Regions from separate parts of the Homo sapiens genome. Here all the other regions are linked to region 1. Evidence: fine-mapped QTL for protein levels in blood plasma. A gene starts in region 1. Each other region holds a variant in brackets. All regions are shown on one strand. Distances are between the middles of the regions.

Region 1 (6,716 bases):
CACATTACTAATACGCAAATCACTGAGCAGCAAGCTGAGCAAATACCCTCAATTCCCATCAGCAACTTTAGAGAAAGGCAAATTCCGTTTGCCTCATTGATCATTTAGGTAGACCCTGAACACTGCTTTCATAAAACAAAAACAAAATACCCATCCCCAGTTTAAAAAATTATTCATAGATCATCCAGGCCATCTAGGAGGATATGATTTAATCCTGGCTACTTGGTAAATTATTTGCCCAAGTTAACTCAGCTAGTTAGTGGTAGATGGCTCTGAAGCCAGTTGTTTTTTTTTGTTTTGTTTTTTGCAGACCTCAAGAGTCATGATGAACTAGCAGATCATAAAGTTTATGCCCTGGGTCTTGACCATTTTTAGAAAAATAAAACATTAAATGAAAATATCAGAGGGCATTGCAGATAGTAGATCTAAGTATTTTTTCATGAAACTTGTTGTACATGTGTGTGTCATACACAGACTATATATATGCAGTACCTGTAAACTGTATTGCCACATAATGTCTATATTTTCCTAGAGGTCACAGTCACCAAAGTTGGGAAGTCACCCAACTTCGGGAACTTTGGGAAGTCACCCAAACTTACAGTCACCAAAATTGCTCTATTCTACTATGTGACCTCAAAAGTGATTTGAAAGAAGGAACATCTGAGCTGGGCCCAAACCCTATTGCAATTTTATTGGGGCCAAAGAGAACTCCATGCTCCTGCCAAATCAAGGCAGTGTCAGCCTCAATAATTTCCCAGATAAAAATAAAAATCTGTGATACAATCAGAATGTGAAAATTCTTATTTTGGAAGCAAATGTCATAACCAATGCAAGGGCTATCTCAATATTCATTCATTATGCAGTATTTTGAACTGCAGTTGAAATGAATAAGAAGGAAAGGCAAACAACGAAGAGTCCAATTTCTCAATTTAGAAAAAGAGAAAAAAAAGAAAAGGGAGCACACAGGCACGGTGGCTCAAGCCTGTAATATCAGCACTTTGGCGGATCACTTGAGGTCAAGGAGTTCGAGAAAAGAGAGCACCTAGAAGTTCAGCGCGGGATAATACTTAAGTAAATTATGACACCATCGTCTGTCATCTTGGGCCCATTCACTAACCCAAAGCTTTCAAAAGGGCTTTCTTAACCCTCACCTAGAATAGGCTTCCGCAGCCTTAATCCTTAGGGTGGCAGAATATCAGGGACCCTGAGCATTCTTAAAAGATGTAGCTCGGGATGGGAAGTTCTTTTAATGACAAAGCAAATGAAGTTTCATTATGTCGAGGAACTTTGAGGAAGTCACAGAATCCACGATTTAAAAATATATTTCCTATTATACACCCATACACACACACACACACCTACTTTCTAGAATAAAAACCAAAGCCATATGGGTCTGCTGCTGACTTTTTATATGTTGTAGAGTTATATCAAGTTATGTCAAGATGTTCAGTCACCTTGAAGAGGCTTTTATCAGAAAGGGGGACGCCTTTCTGATAAAGGTTAAGGGGTAACCTTAAGCTCTTACCCCTCTGAAGGTAAAATCAAGGTGCGTTCAGATGTTGGCTTGTTGTAAATTTCTTTTTTTATTAATAACATACTAAATGTGGATTTGCTTTAATCTTCGAAACTCTTCCCGGTGAAAATCTCATTTACAAGAAAACTGGACTGACATGTTTCACTTTCTGTTTCATTTCTATACACAGCTTTATTCCTAGGACACCAACACTAGATACCTAAACTGAAAGCTTCCGCCGATTTCACCGAAGGTCAGGAAAGTCCAACGCCCGGCAAACTGGATTTGCTGCCTTGGGCAGAGGTGGGCGGGACCCCGCCTCCGGGCCTGGCGCAACGCTGAGCAGCTGGCGCGTCCCGCGCGGCCCCAGTTCTGCGCAGCTTCCCGAGGCTCCGCACCAGCCGCGCTTCTGTCCGCCTGCAGGTAGGGAGCGTTGTTCCTCCGCGGGTGCCCACGGCCCAGTATCTCTGGCTAGCTCGCTGGGCACTTTAGGACGGAGGGTCTCTACACCCTTTCTTTGGGATGGAGAGAGGAGAAGGGAAAGGGAACGCGATGGTCTAGGGGGCAGTAGAGCCAATTACCTGTTGGGGTTAATAAGAACAGGCAATGCATCTGGCCTTCCTCCAGGCGCGATTCAGTTTTGCTCTAAAAATAATTTATACCTCTAAAAATAAATAAGATAGGTAGTATAGGATAGGTAGTCATTCTTATGCGACTGTGTGTTCAGAATATAGCTCTGATGCTAGGCTGGAGGTCTGGACACGGGTCCAAGTCCACCGCCAGCTGCTTGCTAGTAACATGACTTGTGTAAGTTATCCCAGCTGCAGCATCTAAGTAAGTCTCTTCCTGCGCTAAGCAGGTCCAGGATCCCTGAACGGAATTTATTTGCTCTGTCCATTCTGAGAACCCAAAGGAGTCCTAAAAGAGGAATGGAGGAGCCTAAGAATAAAAATAGTATAATAAAACATTTCTTAGACACATTGACCTTGGCCTATGTCAAAGTTCAGTCTGGGTTTGTCTTATAACACAAGGAGTAAAAGTACCATTGTTCTACCTCTTTTTTTAATACTTGAAAAAAATTTACTGTGGATGCTTTTCTATGAATTAAATAACCTTCTAAAAAATGTTTTCATTGCTGCATTCGATTAGATTGGGTAACTAAATGAAATTAATTCCTCACTGTTGGGTATAAAGGTTATTTACAGTGGTTCTGTCTTAGCCATTCACTGAACTCATTGCATATATATCTCTGGAATATTGCTGATTGTTTCCTTCAAGTAAACTTAGAAGTGTAACTACTTAGTCAAAGAGCCTGAATATTTTAAAGGCCTTTTGAAGAAAACTGAAAATGCTTTCCAGAAAGGATGTATCAGTTGACAATGACAGTCGTCAACAGTATTTAAGGAGAACTATGATACTCTGAAGAAAAACTTAGCCTTTCTCAGTAAAAGTAGGTAGGCAGAGGCCACATGACAGCAGTTAGAGTGTGGTCTTCAAGGAAGTCACAGAAATACTGTGGGGAATTGAAACCCCATGTGGAAAATGTACAAGAGTGTCTCAGTGTGACTGAGAAGGAGGTTGGGCATGGGGTTTCATGGAGTTTAATAAAGTTTGGTCACTTAGTAGAGGTTTAATAAATCAACTGTCTTAATCTTTGATCCTACTTAAGAATTTTTTTTTTGTTTTTGTAGAGATGGGGCTCTTGTTATGTTGCCCAGGCTGTTCTCGAACTCCTAGCCTCAGGCGATCCTCCCTCCTCAGGCTCCAGAAGTCCTGGGATTACTGGCGGGAGCCACCATGCAGGCCTCTTGCTCCTACTTTTGAGAAAGGAAGTTTAACCGGTTTTTTTTGTCTTTTTTTTTTTTTTTTTGAGACAGAGTCTCACTCTGTTGCCCATGCTGGAGTGCAGTGGTGCAATCTCAGCTCACTGCCTCCCGGGTTCAAGTGATTCTCCTGCCTCAGCCTCCCGAGTAGCTGGGACTACAGGCACCTGCCACCACGCCCAGCTAATTTTTGTATTTTTAGTAGAAATGGGGTTTCACCATATTGGCCAGGCTGATCTCGAACTCCTGACCTCAGGTGATCCGCCTGCCTCGGCCTCCCAAAGTGCTGGGATTACAGGCATGAGCCACTGCTCCTGGCTGCTTAACTTTTTCTCTATCTCATCCTCCTACCCATCCTACCCTTGGAAGATAGAGAAGTAGTATTAGTTCCATAGTGTTATACTGGGCTTCCCCCAGGGACAAACCCACTTCCCCAACCTGAATGAGCCATCACTTCTTCCCCAGTTTACATTTCATTGCTCTTTAAATGTCTCCATTCGGATATGGGAATTCACATATGGTCATAATTCTTACCTGAAGAAGATGTCAGTCTTCTTCTCTTAGACCAACTGCCCTGATATGAGGTTTAGAGGTTAAAGAACATGTGTGTATTTACATGATCTTTGTATTCTGCCTTTTCGTCCCTCACTAATGACAGCTGCACCCCAAGGAAATGGAGCTGTGGAAGAGAGGGTTTGATAAGAAATTAAGTAAATATTGGATCTAATCCATCACCCTCCAGGAAGCCTTTATTACTCCTAAAAATTTCAACCAAATTCATTAAAGGACAAGAACTCCACCAGAGTAGGCCATAAACATTGGCAAAATTAGTTGTAATCCATGACTAGATTTAATGTCCCTTTGTTTTATTCCCATATGGTTATAATGCTTTGCTTGGCATTAGGGGTATTTTAAGTTTTCTTCTGCCTAGTAAGTGAATTTGTGTTTATAATACAATAATCATAAAATATCACATTAATATTTTATAACTGTACAGTTATAAAATATTTTATAAGTAATATTTATATTTTATAAGTAATATTTTATAACTGTACAGTTAACTCTGGCCCAAGGAAAAGATAGTCTGATAGATGCTGCAGCCCCATTTTAGCAAATGTGACCTCACAGGCCTGAATGCCATCGCTATTCCACATCTACAGGATAGACGGAAAGGAAAGAAATAAAAAAATAGGTACCTAACACTGGCAAGAGGATGATGACTCATGTTATTTCACTTAACCTTTTTATCTTTTAACATGAAGGACTCATACAGGTTGATAAGAAACCAGTGACATAAACAGACCAAAAAATGATCAGATCTTTCAAATTAGCAAAAAAATAATATTTTTTAAACAATGGGTGAAAATACAGTGTAACAGTACCAATTATCAACATGTGTTGAGAACCAGAAAAATGTTCTTTTTCTTTGATCAGCAACACTATTTGGGAAAATCTATCCTCAGGGCCTAGCCTGGGGCCCTGGCACACAGTAGGCACTCAACGAATATTTGCTGAACACACAAATACTTATGATATTTTAAAAAATTGGCAACAATCTGATACCTAACAATAGAGGGATTAAATATTATGGAACTGTTAAATAAGATGCTTATGAATACCATGCAGTAAGATGGGCAATATTTATGCCATAAGCTTTAATGAAACAAATGGGTATTAAATGTATGATAAGGTTATAAATTACTTTTTAAAAGATTACAGGGAAAAAAATTGAAAGATATACACTGAAATGTTTTTTGCTCACAGTGGTGACAAGGTTTCTCAGCACTGGCACTGTTGACGTTTTAGGCTGTATGTCTTTGCTGTGGGAGGCTGGCCTGTGCACTGCAGGGTGTTTGGCAGCACTCTTGGCCTCTGCCCCTAGATAGCAATAGCAGTCCTCCCTCAACCAGCCCAATTTTGACAACCAAAAATGTTTCCAGGCATCACCAGATGCTCCCTGGGTGAGAGTGATGAAATAGTAGGGGATTTTCCCCTTCTTTTCTTATTTTCTGTAATTCCATTATATTACTTTAATAATAAAGAAAAAAACATAAAAAATAAACGAATGTTATTATTCTACGTCAGTTTGGATGTTTGGACTCCATTTTGGGGTTCTTTCCATTATATCACTTGGTCTGCTAAACATTCTACGGTTTGGTAAGGTGAAGTGATTCATGAAATTTTGGTTTTATTTTTTTCCTGATACTAAAAATAAAACATTCTTTCACTTGGAAATTTGGACACAGAACACCAAAAAAAATCCATAATCTCATCTCTCTTTTTCTGTCTTTTCCTTCCTTTTTTCCCTTTAAAAACAATAAAGAGTGAAACCTACCTGTTCTCCCTCTAATTTAATTCCTAAATATAATCACTGTCAATATCTTGGACATTTCCTGTGTCTAAACACACACACACACTTTTTTTTTTCAGCAAAAGTGGATTTCTGCTACATGTAGTGTTCTGCAACTTACTTTCTATGTGTTTACAAAATCAGTACATGTACATATGCTGAATTCAGTCCTTAATGGTATTATATTTTGTGAATATACCAAAATTTGTTTAACCACTTAGACAATCTAGGATATTCTCAGTTTGCTGTTATGAGCAATGCTCTTCCTTTACATATACAGACATATATATATATATGTGTGTGTGTGTGTTTTTGTTTTAGTAGGATAGATTTCTAGGAGAGGGTGAAAGGTCTTATGACATCCGCATTTACGATTGTAATAGGAAGTATCAAAGTGCCCCCTAAAGAAAAAAATCCTCCCATTAGTGGGTAAGAAAGCCTATTTGTTCATATCTTCACAAACACTAAATATTAGAAATATTTACAATTGTGGTCAAGCTCATAAGTGAAAATGGTATTTCATATCTTATATTTTTTATTGTGAGATTGAACATCTTTCATATGTTTACATGTCACCTGTATTTCTTATTCTCTGAACTATATGTTATGACCTTTCACTTTTTTTCCTCATGGGTTATGTGTAGTTTGTATAGTTGTCTTATTGATTGTTAGGAGCTATTTATATATTAGGAACATTAATCTCCTGTCTTATATATACGTGGCATCGATTAGTTGATCATTTGTGAGTTCATGTCTGTATACAAAGATTGGAGAGGCACTAAGAGGGAAAACTTACCTCTTTCTTATCAAAGTTTGTAAATATATGTATAACAGAAGAGGGAGAAAATATTAATAAATGCACAGATTGGCTGAAATAGAGTATAAATCTTTTACTCCCCTACTTCAACATAAACTGCAAAAGGAGAGTGACTTTTCTTTCACTCTGACTTCCGTATTCCTCATGCTTAAAATAGTGCCTAGCACAGAAGAGGTGCTCAATCAGTGTTTGCTAAACGAAATAATTAGTCAC
Region 2 (6,716 bases), 15 kb after region 1:
TGGAATATACCTTTTGTTCCATGCATTGTAGTACTCATTGGATACACATAGAATAATAAGACTCAGTTCACACTCTTCAGGAAACAGATAAAAAACTAAGAAACAAACAAAAAACAGGCAATCCAACACCATGTGGGAAATGCTTTCATAGCCGGGAAACCTGGGGAATACCTGAGAGGAATACTCAATTCAGGCCTTGTTTCAGGAATCCAAATCCTGGCACATCAGAGCTGCTTCCCTCTTTCCAGGGTGGCAGGAAATAAATGGAACATATTTTTCTATCTTATGCCAAACATGAGGGACCCTTTCTCCCCGGTGCCTCTCCCAAGGTAGTCTACAATATTTCAACTCTAGCAGTCTGCTTAGTGCATAGAACATGAGGCTGTGTGTCCCTGGGCAAATTACTAGACTTCTGTGTGCTTCACTTTCCCTGTAGGATTATAATCTACTGAGCAAGCTTATTGTAAGGGTCAGATTAGCAACAGTGTATGAAAATGATTTGAGACCATTGCCTGCACAAATTCAACTATTTTTTTTTATCTCACTACTCTACAGAAGTAGGTAGGGTGGGAGA[CAG/C]AGTCTGATGAGAGGCTCAGAATGTGAAAGAAAGTGAGGCGAGTGAGCATGATATTTAATATAAACACAAAGATATTCTGAGAAGAGCTGCTCACTGCCCCCTCCCCCAATACATGTTGATAGGAAAATGCCACGTACTTCAGCAAAAACAACTGAAAAATTAGATAGAAAAGTCAATCAATAGGAAAAGATAATCCAGGACGGTGTTGTGAACAGAAAGAGGGGGAAAAAACTTTAGAAAATGATGGGGATGCTCTTACTGGGGTACGAGTCCTCAGGTATTGAACTGGCTTTCAGTAAAAGCTAGATTAGTGGGTTCCTGCCATTTACAAGCTGTTTTATGACAACTTACTTGTTGGGTGGCCTACAGTAACTCACCTAACTGCACTGAGTCTGTTTCCTCATCTGTAAATTGGGGATTTTTTTTTAAATACCTGGCATGCCTAACTCATAAAGTTGTTCTGAAACTGAAATAAAACATACGTGAACAGGCATTGTAAACTGTAAGTTACGGAAAAAGCTGGCTGTTGTTGTGTCTTTAAAGTTTCACCTGGGTAGTCAAAGATGGATCATGGGTCTCAGTGGAGAGCTGAGCCAGGCAGGAGCTGACTAAGGGTGAGAGGTGGGAGTTAGCAGCCTCTGAACATCTGTGTACCATGGGACCCCCTTTCCTCCTGCATGGTACCCCAGACAAGGAGCCTAGTAAGAGATACTAATGGCTTGTTGTCCAGAGATGTTCAAACTGCAGAGAAAGATAAGACAACAAGCATTGGCCTCCAATCATGATGACAGATAGGAGGAGGTGGGAGCTCCTTAGCAGTGCTGGTTGGCCTTCCATGTTCTACTGTGGGCCATCTCTGCCATGTACTGTAGGCTACTAGCTTCTATATTAAAGAATGCAAGAGGGGCCAGGAGCGGAGGCTCATGCCTGTAATCTCAGCACTTTGGGAGGCCAAGGTGGGCAGATCACTTGAGGTCAGGAGTTTGTGACCAGCCTGGCCAACATGGTGAAACTCTGCCTTTACTAAAAATATAAAAATTAGCTGGGTGTGGTGGTGTGCACCTGTAATCCCAGCTACTCGGGAGACTGAGGCACAAGAATTGCTTGAACCTGGGAGGCGGAAGTTGCAGTGAGCCCAGATTGCGCCACTGCACTCCACCCTGGGCAACAGAGAAAGACTCTGCCTCAAAAAAAAAAAAAAAAAGCAAGAGGAAGTGAAATAATCAAGGCCGCCATTTAATAGTGAGCAGCCACTCCATGTGGTACTGTGCAAGCACATTATAAATATTAGCCTCACAAGAAATGTATTAGCATTTGTATTTTGTACACTGGTTAAGTATCTTGCCCAAGACCTCAAAACTGGTTAAGGGCAGCAGAATTTAGCCCCAGCACCACCTTTTCAAAGCCTGGGCTTCTCACACTTCTCCATGCTGTTCCCATTTTAACACAGGTATCTCGCCATTCCAGCCACTCAAACTTTGGCATTTAAGAAAATTATCCTAAAGCTAAACTAAACTTCAAGGATGACCATTCTCCTGACCCCTTCCCATCAAAATTTTATCTTTAGTCAGTTTGTTTTCGTTTTGTTTTGTTTTTCAGAACTACCTCTGGCACATCCTCCAAATGAAAGGACTCACTTGGTAATTCTGGGAGCCATCTTATTATGCCTTGGTGTAGCACTGACATTCATCTTCCGTTTAAGAAAAGGTAGTATTTCCTTAATTGCAGTGGTCTCCACTGGGGGTGAGGAAGGGGTGAGAATTGGATCATGGCTGCAAGGAAACCCGACTTAACCTCTGCAAGGTGGTGCAAAGGCATTCCACTGTTCAACAGCAATTATATTGAAGCTGAGTGGGATCACTGGGTGAAGATGAAGCGTAAGGGGTGAGGGGCAGGAGAATGGGTATGGATGGAGGTAGAAGATGCAGTGTCATACAGTTTTTTTCTATCATGAAAATAACCACAGACTTACAGAAGAGAAAGAGCTAAAATGCCCGTCATTTTCAGTTGCATTTTAGTCTTGCATTAGTTGCAACCAGCTGGTTTCTGGGTACCCTAAGTAATAAAAATAGTTCCTCTGTAGAACTGTAGTATGTTTACCATAGAGTATTTTGCAAAATTTTTGGTAGAGGATGTTACATAATTTGCATGTGTTCATTTCTCCATTTACCTGTGGGAACAATTAAAATCCAGGAAAATGAGTATATTCAAATAATTTCCTCCCATTTAAGATGAGTCAGAGTAAATAATTCCTCCAATACTTAGAGAAGTATACCAAGAGATCCAGTGATGGTATAGAGTTGTCTGATGTTAAATAGGGAAGTAGAATATGGAAGGGGATTCCAATAGTCGTTGAAAAATTCCCCATAACCCCTTACATGGGGGAAAGTAGTGTTAACTGAGAGAGTAGAGATAAGCTGTTTCCAAAAATTATATTCTTAACAGGACTGAGATAGCCAGAATATAAGGATCAAGTTTCAATGACAGTAAGATCCTGAGATGGAGTTGATTTGCACAAAGAAATAATTGTTGCCAGCATGCATTTTGAATATTTCTCTGGAAAAAAAGATTAGTTGGCAGTAGAAATGGATAGAAATCAATAGATATTAAAATACCTCAGAATTTGGTTCATCTCTGGGAAAAGATGAAAAATAAAAGTGTATACTCCTCAAGAACATCTAGGATCAAAAGCATGTGCCCTACACTATTGAATTAATTAACCTCATAAGTTGGGACCTGTGGAATAAGGATGTCCACCAGACTTCCTAGGGATTACAAATGTTTCACAGAACTTGAAATTTAAACTTGGGTCACTGTATGGGATGTAGAGCTGTGCTATATGGAAATAAAAATGATTTCTTTTTCTCAAGGGAGAATGATGGATGTGAAAAAATGTGGCATCCAAGATACAAACTCAAAGAAGCAAAGTGGTAAGAATATCAGAAGGAATTGGGAAGTAAAAGTCAAAGGAAACAAAAAGCTAAAGCAATAACAAAGAGAAATCCATCAGTCATAATCTCCTCTCCTTTTAAAGAATGCTGGTTCCCCTTTGCCTCACAGCTAACACAAGAACTCCTCCACCGTCTGAGGAGGTTTAGGAGCAGGGAAGGGGAAGGAGTCAGCTTCATTTGCTAATCTTCTGTTGCCCTGCACCCTAGCAGCTCCTTGCAGCAGGGGACAAGGATGACTTAGGTGGATGGATAATTAATTGATTCTAAAATATTGTGTGTCAGTATTGTAATACTATGTTAATTGCACCATGCACGGTATCTCATTTAATCCCCCACCCCTTGCCATTACCAAAGAGAGAGAGAGAGAGAGAGAGAGAAATACTAGAATTTATCCTCATTTTACAGTAGAGAAAACAGAGGGTCAAGAAGATAATGTAAAGTGCCCAAGAACACACAGCTGATCACAAAAATCAAGCTTGGGGGCCATTAGCCTAACCACAGACCCTTACTCTTAACCCATCTGCTTCAATCCATTTTGCTACAAATGTTTACATTTATAAGCAGGGCAGAAAAACCTCATCCAGGTTATTGAACTAAGAAGAAAGTTATATTAAGGTTTCTAATTTTTTTAATGTAGTTAGAAACCAAACTTAACAATGAGCCCAAGTTTAAAGCAGTCTAATTAACCTGGACAAGCTCAGGCAAGTTTCATTCTGTGGCCCATAGCATCATCTGTGTTGTAAAGCTAAGTAGCAAATGTTGTTTGGGTCATGCTGGGGGACAAGCCATCCCAATTTGCTCAGGACTGAGGGGTTTTCCAGGATATCATGTAAGGATAATTGGGTACAAATATAACCTGCTGCTTTCTCTCATTTCAAATTTATCATTTATCATATCAGCAACTATGAGTTATGTTTTTTATTAGATTTCTTGTTACTTTTTCCCCAGACCACTTCCCATGAAATTAATATACTATTATCACTCTCCAGATACACATTTGGAGGAGACGTAATCCAGCATTGGAACTTCTGATCTTCAAGCAGGGATTCTCAACCTGTGGTTTAGGGGTTCATCGGGGCTGAGCGTGACAAGAGGAAGGAATGGGCCCGTGGGATGCAGGCAATGTGGGACTTAAAAGGCCCAAGCACTGAAAATGGAACCTGGCGAAAGCAGAGGAGGAGAATGAAGAAAGATGGAGTCAAACAGGGAGCCTGGAGGGAGACCTTGATACTTTCAAATGCCTGAGGGGCTCATCGACGCCTGTGACAGGGAGAAAGGATACTTCTGAACAAGGAGCCTCCAAGCAAATCATCCATTGCTCATCCTAGGAAGACGGGTTGAGAATCCCTAATTTGAGGGTCAGTTCCTGCAGAAGTGCCCTTTGCCTCCACTCAATGCCTCAATTTGTTTTCTGCATGACTGAGAGTCTCAGTGTTGGAACGGGACAGTATTTATGTATGAGTTTTTCCTATTTATTTTGAGTCTGTGAGGTCTTCTTGTCATGTGAGTGTGGTTGTGAATGATTTCTTTTGAAGATATATTGTAGTAGATGTTACAATTTTGTCGCCAAACTAAACTTGCTGCTTAATGATTTGCTCACATCTAGTAAAACATGGAGTATTTGTAAGGTGCTTGGTCTCCTCTATAACTACAAGTATACATTGGAAGCATAAAGATCAAACCGTTGGTTGCATAGGATGTCACCTTTATTTAACCCATTAATACTCTGGTTGACCTAATCTTATTCTCAGACCTCAAGTGTCTGTGCAGTATCTGTTCCATTTAAATATCAGCTTTACAATTATGTGGTAGCCTACACACATAATCTCATTTCATCGCTGTAACCACCCTGTTGTGATAACCACTATTATTTTACCCATCGTACAGCTGAGGAAGCAAACAGATTAAGTAACTTGCCCAAACCAGTAAATAGCAGACCTCAGACTGCCACCCACTGTCCTTTTATAATACAATTTACAGCTATATTTTACTTTAAGCAATTCTTTTATTCAAAAACCATTTATTAAGTGCCCTTGCAATATCAATCGCTGTGCCAGGCATTGAATCTACAGATGTGAGCAAGACAAAGTACCTGTCCTCAAGGAGCTCATAGTATAATGAGGAGATTAACAAGAAAATGTATTATTACAATTTAGTCCAGTGTCATAGCATAAGGATGATGCGAGGGGAAAACCCGAGCAGTGTTGCCAAGAGGAGGAAATAGGCCAATGTGGTCTGGGACGGTTGGATATACTTAAACATCTTAATAATCAGAGTAATTTTCATTTACAAAGAGAGGTCGGTACTTAAAATAACCCTGAAAAATAACACTGGAATTCCTTTTCTAGCATTATATTTATTCCTGATTTGCCTTTGCCATATAATCTAATGCTTGTTTATATAGTGTCTGGTATTGTTTAACAGTTCTGTCTTTTCTATTTAAATGCCACTAAATTTTAAATTCATACCTTTCCATGATTCAAAATTCAAAAGATCCCATGGGAGATGGTTGGAAAATCTCCACTTCATCCTCCAAGCCATTCAAGTTTCCTTTCCAGAAGCAACTGCTACTGCCTTTCATTCATATGTTCTTCTAAAGATAGTCTACATTTGGAAATGTATGTTAAAAGCACGTATTTTTAAAATTTTTTTCCTAAATAGTAACACATTGTATGTCTGCTGTGTACTTTGCTATTTTTATTTATTTTAGTGTTTCTTATATAGCAGATGGAATGAATTTGAAGTTCCCAGGGCTGAGGATCCATGCCTTCTTTGTTTCTAAGTTATCTTTCCCATAGCTTTTCATTATCTTTCATATGATCCAGTATATGTTAAATATGTCCTACATATACATTTAGACAACCACCATTTGTTAAGTATTTGCTCTAGGACAGAGTTTGGATTTGTTTATGTTTGCTCAAAAGGAGACCCATGGGCTCTCCAGGGTGCACTGAGTCAATCTAGTCCTAAAAAGCAATCTTATTATTAACTCTGTATGACAGAATCATGTCTGGAACTTTTGTTTTCTGCTTTCTGTCAAGTATAAACTTCACTTTGATGCTGTACTTGCAAAATCACATTTTCTTTCTGGAAATTCCGGCAGTGTACCTTGACTGCTAGCTACCCTGTGCCAGAAAAGCCTCATTCGTTGTGCTTGAACCCTTGAATGCCACCAGCTGTCATCACTA
Region 3 (6,716 bases), 48 kb after region 1:
TTCCCACAATGCACGGAAAAATTGTCTACGACGAAACTGGTCCCTGGTGCCAAAAAGGTTGGGGATTGCTGATTTAGAGCATACCTTTCAGTGGTTTTTAGTATATGCACAGAGTTCTGCAACCAACAATATAATTAATTTTGAAATATTTTCATCATCCCAAAATGAAATCCCATCCCTCTAGCAGTCACCCCCTAGTTCCCCTCATTCCTCCCAGTCTTAAGTAATTATTTCCTGTCTCTATGGATTTGCCTATTCTGGACATTTCGTCTAAATGGAATCATACAATATATACAATCTTTTGTGACAGGCTTCTTTCACATAGCATAATGTTTTCAAGGTTCACACACACTGTATCACGTATCAGGACTGCATTCATTTCTAAAGCTGAGATATATTCCATTGTATGGACATACTGTTTTTTATTGTCTCATTCATCAGTCTCTGGACATCTGGTTTGTTTCCAATTTTTTGATACTAAGAATAATGCTTCTATGAACATTCATGCAGACATTTTTGTGTGTACATTTCATTTCTTTTGAAATATACCTAGGAGTAGAACACTGGGTCGCTATGTTTAACATTTTGAGGAAGTGACAGAGTTCATCTCATTTAAAATTCCAATCCCATATTTTACAAATATGAGATATTTTACAAATATCTCTCCTCCCAGAATAGGTGAAACTTATGACCCTGCAATCTTCAAGTTGGGCAGAGAAATGGCTCAGGTCTCAGGCGGTTGCAGTCTAAGGGTAGTGGCCTGTGATAATGGCTGGGGCCTCCCATGCCTTTGGCTTCCTTCTCTTCTGCATCACACGAAGCCATAGTAACTGTTGGGGTTTTTGGTCATCCTTGAGGACTCAGGAGCCTGGGATGTGAATGATATCCCCATTTTCTTCATTCCTGAAAATAAGTCTACAGCCCTTTTCACTCCCCGGGTGTGGGACACCCAGTGAACCTCCCATTTTCAGAAACTTCAGGCAAGAAGCAGGTATTAATCTCTATACAAGGCACTCTCAAACTTTGGAGATATGCGTTTAGCACCCCTTTTCTCTCCCCAAGAATGAGAGGAGACTCAGATAATATACATCCACTCTAGGCTCTCGGAACCTTCTCCCTGTCTCTTAGTCTCCTTCTTACTTGTCTTTGTTCAAGGCCAGTGGGCCAGTTTAATTTCTCTCCTCCTCCTCTCTTCTCTCCTCTCATTTCCTGCCCCCAACCCTGCACTTGAAAGACTCATTGAAGGAATTAGGCCTGACTTTATTTTTTTTACCATATTAACAAAACGATATTTCTTTTTGAAAAATTTATTTTTATTATTTTTAAAGACAGAGTCTTGCTCTGTCACCCTGGCTGGAGTGCAGTGGTGGAATCATAGTTCACTGCAACCTCAAACTCCTGGACTAAAATGATCCTCCCTCCTCAGCCTTTCAAGTAGCTGGGACTATAGGTGTGTGCCACCACTCCTGGCTTTTTAATTATTTTTTTAATTGACACATAAATAATTATATAGATTTATGGAGTAGAGTGTGCTATTTCGACACATGTCTAAGATGTATTATAATTAAATCATAGTAATTAGCATATCCATCATCTGAAACTTTTATTTCTTTGTGTTGGAAACACTCAAAATCCTCTCTTCTAGCTATTTGAAAATATAGAATACATTGTTGTTAACTGTAGTCACCCTACAGTGCTATAGAGGCCTTACTTAAATTTGACCTTTGTGAGTTCAGTAACTTTTCCTCAACAAGAAGCCATCTACCCAGTTATTTCTTCACTATTCAGTAACATGGGGCAGAAAAAAATACTTAATCAGTGCCCCACATCAATCTGTTACACTTATAATAAATCTCTTTTTATTTTGAAAAGTTCTTTTCTGTGAATGAGCCAAACCTAGACCTCTCTCCTTCTAAGAACAAACAAGTATTTCAGTTGCTCCGGCCAGAACTTCAATTCACACCTTTCCTTCTCTTACTTTGAGACCAGGCCTTTCTTAGCACATAGAGACCAGGTGGGACTGCAAGCCAAGTGTGGACTTTGAGGATGATGACCAGTGACTCACCTCCAGCCCCTGGCTGACCATGACACAAGGGAGGCCAATTTTCGGGCTGGCCCCCATGTGGTCTCCCTCCTCCTCCTCTCTTCCCCCAGCTGCTCATGACCTGCCTGCCCCACCCCAGAAATTCCTTGTCCCCATTTTCTTTTTCATTTGAGACAGAGTCTTGCTCTGTTGCCCAGGCTGGAGTGCAGTGGCACGATCTCAGCTCACTGCAACCTCCGCCTCCTGGGTTCAAGCAATTCTCCTGCCTCAGCCTCCCAAGTAGCTGGGATTACAGGTACCTGCCACCATGCCTGGCTAAGTTTTGTATTTTTTAGTAGGGATGGGGTTTCATCATGTTGGCCAGGCTGATCTCGAACTCCTGACCTCAGGTGATCTGCCTGCCTCGGCCTCCCAAATTGCTGGGATTTCAGGCGTGAGCCACCGTGCCCGGCCCCCTCTCCCCATTTTCAAGAGATTAAGCTGGTCTTCACCTGCTTCCTTCACATTCCAGATAAACTCACAGCAGATCCCTGCTTCCTGACTTTGGAAACGTTGCTAAAGCAGGTTCTAGATAAACTGCTGCCTCCTCATTTCTCACACCTTCCTTAGCTCTTGCTCTTTGCCTGTTTTCCCAAAATTCAAGTGCATTTCTTTCTCATCCTCAAGCTGTATTTTTTTCCCTTATAAAACCAAGCAGAGTGGGAAATACTGGACTTATTTTTTTGGACCTGAAAGCATTAACATTGATTTAGCACCTGCTGTATGACAAGCACTGTTCTAGGTGATTTACATGAATATTTACATCATGTCATATTACAATATATTACATTACATCGCATCACATCACATACATTGTATTGCATCATATTATATTACATTGAACTACATTTGCATTACACTGCATTTGGAGGAAAATATCTTGGGAGGAAAGGACAGAAATGGTTGTAGCATTTCTTACCTACTCTGCCCTACATTCACAGGGTGATCTTGGTTAAGCTCTGTAATCTCTCTTTGTATTAACTTTCCCTTCTATAAGATAGGAGGGGCCTCATAGATTGGCTGGTGACATAATTATTAAACTCATTATATTCTTATTATAGTCTAATAGTTTATGACCAAAATTCTAATTTTCTATTTCCAAGTGACAATGCAATGTTGAAGGGGGTGCCTAATTCTACACACAGACACACACACACAATTTAGCTATGCCTCTCAGGAATCTTCTATTAAAAAGAGAACAAAGCTAAATTAAATAAATTGCCAGCCAGGCATGGTGGCTGACACCCGTAATCCCAACAATTTGGGAGGCTGAGGTGGATGGATCACTTGAGCTCAGGAGTACAAGACTGTTAGGTTTTGAAGGGAAGGCGAGACTTAAAGAAAGACACACACACATAAGAGGGAAGTTCAACAACAAATGCAGACTTTATATCCAGCATAAAACCTACAGAAGTCAGAGACCAGTCTAATGCCAGTACCTGCTGCTGCTTATAGGCTGGGGCAATTTATAGGTATGGGCAGGAGGGGTCTGGGCAGTATGGCTTGCTGCCTGGCAGGAAATTGATAAGATGGTCCCATGATGAGGCAGTTCTGGTCCTTGTTCAGGCAGGATGT[C/G]ATCATGGTGTTCCTTGGACCTTTGCCCAGAAGGTCTTTGCCTTCTAGTTTAGCATAAAAAGGAAGAGGGGCATTGTTAATTATCTGGCTGTTTCCTGCTAAATAGGAGCACTGCACTCAGGCTTTGGGTTTTCAGCAGTGGGTGTCCGACTTTAGAGTTGTTTTCCTGGAAGTGCTGATACCAAACTTGGCAGAGAAGAATGGTATCGTGTTTCTATATAGCTGCCTGGACAAGGGAGTTCGGCCTTTGGGAGATAAAGCGGGATATGAAGGTGCGCACACATGGGCCAATTGTCAGTATTATGAGGGAGAAAATTAGGGACCCTAAGACAGGGGTTACCCAAGGTATCCACTTTAGGAAGGATGACCCCTGCCAACAGTGAATGACTTGATGTTGGATTTCTGCAGCCGTGTAATGGAGCCTGTGGGCTGCGTTGCGAACAATGCCGGCTTCATTAACATAAAAACAGCATTCTTCTTGGACATATACACATGTGCCCCAAGACAAGAATGTTAATCCAAACTGCACCATTTTGTAAGCGCCCTGCTATTTTGCAGACCTTGGTAAAAGTGACACATTTCATGGGTTTTTGGGCCATGAGAAACACCCTGCCTAACCACTTGACCACAAGGCCCACAAAGGCCCAACTAAAGAAATATCTCTATCATATCCTTCTGGGCAAAGGTCCAAGGAACACCACGATGACATCCCGCCTGAACAAGGACCAGAACTGCCTCATGACGGGAACATCTTATCAATATCCTACCGGGCAGCAAGCCATACTGCCCAGACCCCTCCCGCCCATACCTATAAATTACCCCAGCCTGTAAGCAGCGGTAGGCACTGGCGTTAGGCTGGTCCCCGACTTCTACAGTGTGCATATTTCTTTAACCCTCGCCTTCCCTTCAAAACCTAACAGGGATCAGCCTGGGCAATATGGCAAAATGCCATCTCTGCAAAAAAATACGAAAATTAGCTGGGTGTGGTGGCGCATGGCTGTGGTTCCAGCTACTTGAGAGGCTGAAGTGGTAGGATCGCTTGAGCCCCGCAGGTTGAAGTTGCAGGCAGCCCTGATTATGCCACTGCACTCCAGCCTGAGTGACAGAGTCAGACCCTGTCTCAAATAAATAAATAAATAAAAATAAATTAGAAACACATACAGCCCTTTGTTGATTTCTTTAAATGTTTTCTTCTTGTTATTTTTCAGTAATCTAACTATACTCTCCATTATTGCTTTTAAAAAATTATTTCTGTCTTTACAAAAGTAATTTGTGCTCATGGCAGACTATTTAAAAAACAAAATGAAGCCAAAGAAAGAAAATAAAAATTAACTGCAGGAGAAGGAGGCAAGAGAGCTAACTAGATGCAGCCAGGAGAAACACCTCTCACAGAGATCTTCCCAGATTTTCAGAGGGAAGGCATCAAGAGTGGACAGAGGGAAGACACAGAGGCTGGGCTGAAGCAGGAGGAAGCTGAAAACCCTGCATGAGGCTACCACACACTGGGACTTGTTCCTGGCCCCCAACAACTCCTGCAGAAGGGATGAGTTGAACAGGCAAGGAGAAACATGCTCTTGCAATGGGTCTCTGGAATCACGACAGGAAGAGACCCCTCAACCACTGTGGACACTTGAGTTGGCAAGGAGAGCTGCTTAGAGAAGTGGTAGGGGCAGAGCTCCAGGTGATGTGGAGCCCAGTAGGTTTCGTGCGGGAGTGTTTGTGGTGGAGTACAGCCAGCGATGTCCATCTCCCTAGGCTCAACTTGCTTCCATAGGAGACTTTAGCACCAGGGGAGCTGTCGGTCCTAAATTCTGCAGGGCGGTGTTGCCCATGAGATAGGGCCAGTCTGACTTCAGCACCCTTTGGTCTGCTAGCCTTTCCCAGGGCCCCAGCCTGTCCATGCCTGCTTGCAGTGCAGCCACCAGGTACCTCCTGGGAGCCCACATCATAGCACCTGTGCTGGCAGACCATGCCAGACTGTCAGAGTGCTGCAGCAGAGTAGCCCCCATGGACACACACCAGCCCACCCAGCTCATCCCCTAACTACAGCCTCCCCCTTGTTGCTTTGCTTGCACACACTTGCCCACAGCCACCCTTCATATCACTTTGCCAGTACCTGCGTGTACAGGCAGACCTCACCTTCCCTTCCCCACCAGCATACGTGTGAGCGTGTGCCCTGCCATGCCACTGCTGCTGGTGTGAGTATATCCTGCCCCTCCTTTCCCTGCAGCACTGTCCACTGTGATGGCAATGGCATTGTCATCAGAGTGTTGTTGGGCATGGAGCTGCCAGCTCCGCCCCAGCCAGTCCCCAGCCCTGCCCCTATGCGAACACTGCCTATGGCACAAAACTAGGCACAAAAACCAGCAGGCCCACCCCTGCCCTGAGCGGCCAATGCCTCCCATGTGAATGTGCACAGGGGGCACACACAGCCCTGCATCTAGCAGCATCCTGCTCCCATGCTAATCCCAACACTGGCACAAACATGTGTACAGTTGCTGGTGAGGGCCCCCCAACCTGCCTGAGCCATGCTGCCACTGCTGCTTCTATGAACACCTGCACGAAGGCTGGCACTCCGGCATCCACTAGCACCTTGCTGCAGCCAACAAGTGTGCACCCCACTGCACCGCTGCTGCCACTGCGACTGGCACATGCGACTGAGGATGGATCATGTTTCCACAGCCCTACAAAGCACTTTGGCTGGCACCATGCCTCAGAGAGTTGTGATCAGAGGTCCAGGAGCACCTCAGGCCCCTCCAACATAGCAGGTTCCTAACCTTAAGGAGCCAGAGAACAAGACCGGGGCCTGATACCAGTGCCCCAGAGTTATAACACACAGTTTGGGAGTCCTGAGCTGAGACTTGGGCCCCTAAAATCTTCCAGAAATGAAGCCAGTCTACTGAACCCACCTTATACCACAATCAAACCCCGAAGGTCATTAAATATGATATAAAAAGGGGGAAAAAAAAACAAAAACAGCAACATCAAAGATTGAAGGAACATCATTCTACAAAGATGAGAAAGAACCAAGATAAGAACTCTAACAACTAAAAAGCCA

Direction of the effects. Alleles are on the strand shown, and positions count from the first base shown. The strength of an association depends on the size of the effect and on how common the allele is. Not every link is listed here.
With allele C in place of G in region 3, the plasma level of the protein whose gene starts at base 1,882 in region 1 is lower (strong association).

What was found. A credible set is the group of variants that fine-mapping cannot tell apart. PIP is the chance, under the fine-mapping model, that this variant and not a neighbour inherited with it causes the effect. The UK Biobank Pharma Proteomics Project read protein levels with antibody pairs (Olink). The fine-mapping took linkage between variants from a reference panel, not from the people measured, so its PIPs are less certain.
Region 2: its variant is the best candidate, but not a certain one, in a credible set for the plasma level of the CD274 protein (UK Biobank, PIP 0.83).
Region 3: its variant is the best candidate, but not a certain one, in a credible set for the plasma level of the CD274 protein (UK Biobank, PIP 0.56).

What each region holds. Positions count from the first base shown.
Region 1 is chr9:5,448,661-5,455,376 of GRCh38, forward strand. It overlaps CD274 (CD274 molecule), which reads left to right and starts at 1,882. Exons shown (of 7, transcript NM_014143.4): 1 at 1,882-1,936. RefSeq lists enhancers at 1,659-1,708, 1,999-2,158.
Region 2 is chr9:5,463,323-5,470,038 of GRCh38, forward strand. It overlaps CD274 (CD274 molecule), which reads left to right. Exons shown (of 7, transcript NM_014143.4): 5 at 2,177-2,284; 6 at 3,448-3,507; 7 at 4,518-6,716. The coding sequence ends at 4,540. All of the region lies in intron 2 of INCR1 (interferon stimulated noncoding RNA 1), which reads right to left. Among named protein-coding and RNA genes, the nearest start is that of CD274, 16 kb to the left of the region's middle. The variant CAG/C (reference allele first, on the strand shown) is at 575.
Region 3 is chr9:5,496,471-5,503,186 of GRCh38, forward strand. The region is part of intron 2 of INCR1 (interferon stimulated noncoding RNA 1); the gene reads right to left. Among named protein-coding and RNA genes, the nearest start is that of PDCD1LG2, 11 kb to the right of the region's middle. RefSeq lists a silencer at 2,639-2,933 and an enhancer at 5,417-5,918. The variant C/G (reference allele first, on the strand shown) is at 3,659.